3 separate regions of the Homo sapiens genome follow, and regions 2 and 3 are each linked to region 1. The links come from fine-mapping of genetic effects on gene expression. A gene starts in region 1. Each other region holds a variant in brackets. All regions are shown on one strand. Distances are between the middles of the regions.

Evidence for each region. PIP is the estimated chance that this variant, and not a neighbour inherited with it, causes the effect. A credible set is the group of variants that fine-mapping cannot tell apart.
Region 2: its variant is the best candidate, but not a certain one, in a credible set for the expression of FAM228B in cerebellar hemisphere (GTEx, PIP 0.59).
Region 3: its variant is the best candidate, but not a certain one, in a credible set for the expression of FAM228B in whole blood (INTERVAL, PIP 0.53).

Annotation. Positions count from the first base shown.
Region 1 is chr2:24,121,870-24,124,629 of GRCh38, forward strand. FAM228B (family with sequence similarity 228 member B) reads left to right here and starts at 1,600. Exons shown (of 11, transcript NM_001145710.2): 1 at 1,600-1,664; 2 at 2,461-2,591. The coding sequence starts at 2,493. PFN4 (profilin family member 4) reads right to left here and starts at 1,465. Exons shown (of 5, transcript NM_199346.3): 1 at 1,249-1,465; 2 at 550-678. The coding sequence starts at 666. RefSeq lists a silencer at 1,532-2,031 and an enhancer at 2,102-2,351.
Region 2 is chr2:24,060,769-24,063,528 of GRCh38, forward strand. FKBP1B (FKBP prolyl isomerase 1B) reads left to right here. Exons shown (of 4, transcript NM_004116.5): 3 at 46-158; 4 at 2,296-2,760. The coding sequence ends at 2,424. Among named protein-coding and RNA genes, the nearest start is that of FKBP1B, 12 kb to the left of the region's middle. RefSeq lists an enhancer at 170-309. The variant CACCACGGCCGG/C (reference allele first, on the strand shown) is at 1,253.
Region 3 is chr2:23,453,399-23,456,158 of GRCh38, forward strand. All of the region lies in intron 1 of KLHL29 (kelch like family member 29), which reads left to right. All of the region lies in intron 1 of LOC124907741 (a long non-coding RNA gene), which reads right to left. Among named protein-coding and RNA genes, the nearest start is that of LINC02923, 67 kb to the left of the region's middle. RefSeq lists enhancers at 1-135, 136-635. The variant A/T (reference allele first, on the strand shown) is at 1,405.

The sequences.
Region 1 (2,760 bases):
AGGCTTTCACAGATGACCAGTCTTCCAGGCAGTAGAACTGTGAGCCAAATAAACCTCTTTTCTTTATAAATTACCCAGCTTCAGGTATTCCTTTATATCAACAGTAAAAAGACTAAGCCTAGAAACCTAAAATATTTATGTAGCTCTTTACAGAAAAAGTTCATTTAAAAGTCATGTCTGGGCTGGGCACGGTGGCTCATGCCTGTAATCCCAGCACTTTGGGAGGCCGAGGCAGGTGGATCACCTGAGGTTAGGAGTTTGAGACTAGCCTGACCAACATGGTAAAACACCATCTCTACTAAAAATACAAAAATTAGCCGGGCCTGGTAGCGCACTCCTGTAATCCCAGCTACTCGGGAGGCTAAGGCTCAAGAATCGCTTGAGAGGCGGAGGTTGCAGTGAGCTGAGATCATGCCATTGCATCCCAGGCTAAGCAACAAGAGTGAAATTCCGTCTCAAAAAAAAAAAAAAGTCATGTCTGCTTCATTTTTTGGAAGAATAGAAATAATAAGTAAATCAAGTCTTAGGTCCAAACTTGTTTTTTCTTACATTGAAACCTGGTGATGCTACACACAAGCTCCGCTCCTGGATTTTGATGAGGGCTGCACTGTCCACATGCTTGGTTCCCAAGAGGGTGTCTAACAATAAGCTCTGCAAATGGCTCATGTTCCCTCAACTCTGAAAGGGAAAGTGCAGTTGAAGCCATTGACTCTGGCTAGCTTTTAAAAGGCATGTGAATACAAATGTCCTTAAGACACTGCAGACAGTTCTAAGATCAGCAAGTGTACTTTGAAAAGGTACAGGGTGAAAACGGTGGTCCATCATTCAGGGCCCACCAGTACCCAAAGAGGAAAACAGAATCATAGAAAAATCACAGCTCACACAGAATAGGTTATGAAGCTGAGTTTGGAAAATCACAGCCTGGTGATTTTCTGGCTATGTCAATGGTTTACATCAGGATTATCTGCGATTTAAAAACAAACATTACACACTGAGAAAAACTCTGTAAAATAAAAAATAAAAACAAAAAACAAAACCCAGCCAGGATGGAGAGCTACCCTGCTAAGTTAAACACGACTAAAAGAGATTATGCGTGGCCATAAACCCACACATTCCCTTCCCGGTGACCTGCATCAGCGCCAGCTATGAACGCTGATCAACATCCCAATGGACTAAAAACACCTTGAAGGCACTTAAACCCACATTTCCCGCACAAGTCCCCAAGCCTTGGACCCCCCTCATCAGGACCTCCGGCACAGGCGCCCGTTTCCCGCCACTGCCTTCCAGTGGTTTGGTCCCCGAGCAGGACCCAAGGCGGGGCAGGGGGTGGTGAGCGGTGAATTCCCTGGCACCGAGGACTCGAGGGAGCGGACGCCACCCCGCTCTGTGGTGCCCGCAAGGACCCGGCGACCAAGGACCCGACCGTCAACGGACGCGGTTGCGGGTGGGTGGCGGCGGCAGGATTGGCCGGGCCACGCGCCGGTCACCGAGAAGCAGCGACTCCAGCCCCTTCCGCAAACCAAGACCCGCCACCTAGAGCCGCCGCCCAATCCCCTTTGGGCCTGAAGCCGTCCTCCGCCGCCCCGGCACCGCCCGCGCGGACTCGCTGTGGAACCCGCGGCGCAGGGGGCGGAGTGCTCGCGCGGCGCTGCGTCCGGGAGACGGTGGGCGCCAACATTCGCGCGTTCCGCAGACGCGGGCGGGCTCCCTTCCAGCCGCAGTCGGACGGCTCCGGGGTCGTCGGGCCGGGCCCGAGTGTGTAGCAGGACGGCCGCGGGCCTGCTGGCCTTGGGAGGGCAGAGAGGTGCCTGTCGCGGCCGGCGACCTCCCCGCCAGGCCGGGCGGTCCCCGCGCACGACGCGCCTGCGCGGGAGGCCCCCGGCCCGGGGCTGGCGTGGAGGCCGCAGGCGCCCGGCCTAGTGGGTGGGAGGAAGGGCCGGGAGTGGGCGCGATGAGCGAGAGCGGGTGCGGACGCCTACGACATCCCCGTCGCACCCGTGCCTCGGGGAGGACTTCGAGCCGCTCAGAGCTCGAAGACTCGCGCAGTATGACCGAAAGCCCCTCCCTGCCTTCTCTAAGCAGCTCAGCCTGTGTTTCTGTGGCCAGAAAGTTGCAGTTCTTCCCACTCGAGGCCACCAAAGTCAGAAAAGTGTTGCAAATGGGACTCCGAGAGGCCAGGCTGAAGCTGCCACACTGGCTGGAATGGGCTGCCTTGGAGGGGGACGTGGGAATCCATTCCAAGGGACGGGGGATTCTTTCAAAGAGCATCTCGCCTGCTTATAAAGGAGGCTGGCTCTGAAGCCGTCATCTGGAGTCTGTAGTGAAGGCCTCTTGTTAGGGAAACTGGATGGTTAGTGTTCAAAATCCATTTTGCGTGTGTGCAAGGACACAGGTGGTATTAAACAGAAGAGAAAATCAGATGACTGTGAAATGTTCAATACTAAATAAGATGATTTTTAGTTTTTCCAGGGGCATTGTTATTTGTGACCACAATGAAAAATGTAGACAGTGATGATCTGGTAACTGGCACACTTCCCAAGCTCAAGAGCTCAAAAGAATGGTTGGAGCCCAAGCCCCTTTGTTTTATGGAGGTATATATCAAATAGTGTGGGATTTGGAGATTTTTTTACTTGGATCGTTGCAGTAGGAAGTGGCTTGTGCTAAATATATTGTTTTTTCTATTGTTTGTTTTTATTTCATTCTGTTTATTATTCCCTTCACTTTACTAACTTTGTATATTCACTTTGCTGTTTTTTTCTA
Region 2 (2,760 bases), 61 kb before region 1:
TACTCATGACCACAGCTCTATTGCACCCGATTCTTGCTTTGACAGGAATGCTCCAAAATGGGAAGAAGTTTGATTCATCCAGAGACAGAAACAAACCTTTCAAGTTCAGAATTGGCAAACAGGAAGTCATCAAAGGTTTTGAAGAGGGTGCAGCCCAGGTAGGATGAGGATTCGCATTAAAGGGGATCTGGGGAGTTGGGGATCTGGGATCAGCACTCTGCCCTCCACCTCCACCTTCACCCACTCACAGACCACTACTGCTTTGACTCTACAGCCAGGGCATGGCAACGCCATCTGGTGTCCCCTCCTGGCTTTGCGTCCCCACCCCTCTCCTTGCCAGCATACCTCTTTTGTGTCCCTGGGGGCTCTCATCCCAAGCACATCCCCCTAGGCTTGCTCAGAACTAGCTGAGAGAGCCAGGCACGGTGGCTCACACCTGTAATCCCAGCACTTTGGGAGGCCGAATGGGGTGGATCAGTTGAGGCCAGGAGTTCAAGACTAGCCTCACCAACATGGTGTAACCCCGTCCCTGCTGAAAATACAGGCGTGGTGGTGCATGCCTGTAATCCCAGCTACTTGGGAGGCTGCGACAGGAGAATTACTTGAACCGGGGAGGTGAAGGTTGCAGTGAGCAGAGATTGTGCCACTGTACTCCAGCCCAGGCGATGGAGTGAGACTGTCTCAAAAAAACAAAACAAAAAAATAAACTAGCTGAGGTCTACCAGTTGCCTGGGACTGAGGTAGTGGAAGAGTTGGGGTGGAGTAGGCCAAGAAAATTTTTCGTTTTTTCGCTTTTTTGAAAAGAATTTCAGAATTACAAAAATATTAAAGAAATAGTACAGAGTTCTTCTATATTCTATCCAGCTTCCCCTTCTTGCATAACCATAGTACAATTATCAAAACCAGGACATTCACACTGATACAAATTACTTACTTATTCAAATTTTTGATTATTCAAAATTCAAAAGTAGATTTAAATTTCACCAATTGTCCCACTAATGCTGAGTGGGTTCTCAACAACTGCTGTGATGAGCCCTGGTTCAAGCTGTTCTTTCTTGGTCTGTCTGTGAAGTCCTATGATGCTCCCTTACGATAGGTCTTGTTTTTGGTGTTTTTTTTTAGAAAGAGTATCACTCTGTCACCAAGGCTGGACTGCAGTGGCGCAATCTTGGCTCACTGCAAGCTCCGCGTCCTGGGTTCACGCCATTCTTCTGCCTCAGCCTCCCTAGTAGCTGGGACTACAGGCGCCCGC[CACCACGGCCGG/C]CTAATTTTTTTGTATTTTTAGTAGAGACGGGGTTTCACCGTTGTTAGCCAAGATGGTCTCGGTCTCCTGACCTCGTGATCTGCCCGCCTCAGCCTCCCAAAGTGGTGCGAGCCACCGTGCCCGGCCTGTTTTTTGTTTTTTATTTATTTATTTATTTTGAGACGTAGTCTCACTCTGTTGCCCAGGCTAGAGTGCAGTGGCACAATCTCAGCTCACTGCAACCTCCTCCTCCCAGGTTCAAGCAATTTTCCTGCCCCAGCCTCCCGAGTAGCTGAGATTACAGGTGTGCACCATCACCATCACGCCTGGCTAATTTTTGTATTTTTAGTACAGACGGGGTCTCACCATGTTTGCCAGGCTGCTCTCGAACTCCTGACCTCAGGTGATCCACCTGCCTCGGCCTCCCAAAGTGCTGAGATTACAGGTGTGAGCCACCACGCCCGGACTTTTTGTATTTTTTAGTAGAGACAGGGTTTTGCCATATTAGCCAGGCTGGTCTTGAACTTCTGGACTCAAGTGATCTGCCCACCTTGGCTTCCCAAAAGTGCTGGGATTACAGGTGTGAGCCACCACGGTTGGCCACAATAGGTCCCCCTTGCCACCTTGCTGGTGACTCTAGTCTCTAAACCACTTTAAATAACTGCCCCTGTCACCTACTTGAGTATTTACGTGTGCTATTCATACACCCTCTTTTCCTAAAGAGGCCTATTCTTTGGAAGAGGGTGAACTATGAACAAATGGAAGTGTTTCAGTCATACACAAATTGAATAACCAGTAATGTTTGTCAGATGCATGAATTTGAGACCACTCTGTGAGGGTTACTGCCCCACAGTCACATCTCTGCTGAGGCAGAATCTGCGTTTGTTAAAGCTGTTAGCACGATTTCAATGTATCCCATGTAAAATTCATCTGAGATCTTCAGAGTTAACATTGAGGATGGTTTGGGAAAATGCCATAGTCATCTAACTTTTTTCTTTTAAATCAAGCTGGGTCCTCTTTCTCCTCTCCCCATCTGCCCCCATCCCTGCTAGATGAGCTTGGGGCAGAGGGCGAAGCTGACCTGCACCCCTGATGTGGCATATGGAGCCACGGGCCACCCCGGTGTCATCCCTCCCAATGCCACCCTCATCTTTGACGTGGAGCTGCTCAACTTAGAGTGAAGGCAGGAAGGAACTCAAGGTGGCTGGAGATGGCTGCTGCTCACCCTCCTAGCCTGCTCTGCCACTGGGACGGCTCCTGCTTTTGGGGCTCTTGATCAGTGTGCTAACCTCACTGCCTCATGGCATCATCCATTCTCTCTGCCCAAGTTGCTCTGTATGTGTTCGTCAGTGTTCATGCGAATTCTTGCTTGAGGAAACTTCGGTTGCAGATTGAAGCATTTCAGGTTGTGCATTTTGTGTGATGCATGTAGTAGCCTTTCCTGATGACAGAACACAGATCTCTTGTTCGCACAATCTACACTGCCTTACCTTCACTTAAACCACACACACAAGGTG
Region 3 (2,760 bases), 670 kb before region 1:
ACAATGCATCTCCCACATTGAGGCTTTTCAGAAATGCGATTGAAAATAGAAGTGTGGGTGCAGCATTTTCCTTCCTGCCACATGGGAATTCTGGGGAAAGAGCTCACCTTGAAGGAACAACCTTGCTGGGAGTGCAGTGGGGGGACCTTTCCCCTGGAGCCGGAGCCCCTGCTGGGTTCTGGCAGCCCCAGGATGCCCACTGAGCTCTGCTTCTCTGGGCACCCTGAGAAATGGACGGCAGCGGCCCTGACTCCGGGCTAAGGCAGGGCTTCAATTAAGCCAGAGAAACACGATTTATTATCAGCATGTTTTCAGTTCCAAGCCGTGCTTTGAAAAGGTCACCTTATATGAATATTTAGAAAAAGCAAGATCATAAAATAAGAGGGACTTGGTATTTTGTTTTGTATTTTTTTTTTAGAAGAAAATTCGGGCTCACTGGTAACTTACAATGGGCAAACTCTAGCACTTTTTATTTAACCTGCATTTACCCTTTAAAAATGGGGAGGAGGTTTTAGAACTGCATTTGAGGAGACTTTCTGTGTCCAGGGGATTTTACAGCGTTTGAAACCAGGGCAGTGAGCCTTACACCCGGGACCCAAGGTCCGCTTGCTGACTAAATGCCCATTAAAACAGCAAATGAGGAGGCCAGGTCTGCTTTGAAGAGCCTAGCCTAATTGTGTTGTATTTGTGTCAGCTGATGGCTACTTTTTTCATTAGGGACTTTTAACCTGTGGGTCATCTTTTGAAATACACATTCGATTGAGTCAGTTCTTCCTTTAAGACCTCAATTGGCTCTCCTTGCCCGAGGAGAAAGCTGGGCCCCTGACCCTCCCGCCCCGGCCCCTTGAGATCTGGACACAGCCTTGCCTCAGAACTCAGCCTGTCACCTCCCCTCCCCTCCTGTCACGTCCTGTGTCCCATTCCAGTCCCATAGTGAGGGGACTTAGTGGATTATATTGTAGGATGAGCTTAGTTAAAGATTAAACGAGTATGTTTATTCTTTATTTCACAGAGTAATTGTTTTAAAACGAATTTTATTTTTATGCTTAGTAGGATGGATTTTATTTAAACCCCCAGGCAGACTCCATTTAAATCTGTCTATAAATTGTATAGTCTTGATGTTTTTGTATAACTTTGATATACATTCTTTACAAAATCCCGGTTTTATTTTTACAAGATGAAGATTATACATTTTAAAGCAGTTATTTCGTCAGCTTTTTCTGTCTCCTTGTATAATCATATCAGAGGACTGAATAATGATTTCGTTATTTCATTTGCACAGTCTCTCGTGACTGCTAAGCACTCTGCTTGTAGTTCCTGTTTTTTGCTATTCCTCTGTTCTTGCGTTTTTTTCTGCAATCTCTCCCCGCCTTGCCCAGATCTCTTCCTCAATGATTTTTTTTT[A/T]AATTTTGTACAACAAATATTCCTCGGTGCCTCCTGCCCACCAGACACTATGCCAGGTGCCAAGTGTAGAATGCAGATTAAACAGCCAGGTTGTCTACCCCTTGGCACTTGGCATGGAATTCCGTGGCGCCTTTCCATTAAAGAGGGCTAAGGGCTGTCAGCTGAATTTGACAACTCGTAGAAACAGGAACAGTGGGTTGGGGGGGGGGCATTTATTTCTCTCGCATCTGCAGCCTCTGTGCAATCAGTTTGTCATCTCTGAAGACAAATTTATTGTGAATTAAATAAGATCACCCTTTGATGTCTCTTGAATGTGGCCTCTTCTCAGGCCTGGCTCCTTCTGGTAGAGCTGTTGTCTTTAGTTGCTGACATTATCAATAACAAAATCTTGGCCCACCCATAAAATTGTCCCACTTCCATAATCCTTGACCTCTTGTGACTGATTAGTAAAGCTCTGTAAAAAGGTTACCTGAAAATATATTTTATAAATACCGTGTATTATGATTCAGAGTTACACCTCGTGCCTAAAATATGTTCTTCAACTTTAACCTATTTTAAGTTGAAATAGTTTTGCTAGATTTGGTTGGTTTATCATTACTGTTGTTATCAACATTGGTTTGGTCTGTTGTTAGTGAAGGTCTTTGTTAAAAAGCAAATAAATAAGTGGAAATCCAGTTAATGTAAGATATTTTGGTTTGTGAATTTTATTTGCCTTTCTGCTCTAAGAAGTTTCCCTGAGGACAGGCAGACAAGTTTGCCATTGAGTGATGAAGAGAAGCGTCAGCTGAGGGATGGTCTCCTGATTTTTTTTTTTTTTTTTTTTTTTTGAGACCGAGTCTCCATCTGTCACCAAGGCTGGAGTGCAGTGGCACCATCTCGGCTCACTGCAACCTCTGCCTCCCAGGTTCAAAAGATTCTCCTGCCTCAGCCTCCCGAGTAGAGTCTCCTGATTTTGTAAATTCTGCCATGTGGTTCATTTGTTAGTCAGCCACAGTTAGGCACTGAATTGTGTCTCCCCAAAATTCACATGCTGAAGCCCTAATTCCCAATCCCTCAGAATGTGGCTGTATTTGGACATAGGGCCTTTAAAGGGGTGATTAAGGTGAAACCTGATTGGTGTGTTTATAAAAAGAAGACACACAGAGGGACACAGGAATGTGCATGCAAAGAGGAAAGACTGTGTGAGGACTTCGTGAGAAAGCGGCCACCTGCAAGCCAAGGAGAAGAGGCCCCAGAAGAAACCAAACCTGCTGACACTTTGATCTTGGACTTCTGGCCTCCAGAACTGTGAGAAAATAAATTCCCATTGTTTAAACCACCCAGCCTTTGGTATTTTGTTATGGCAGCCCTAGCAAA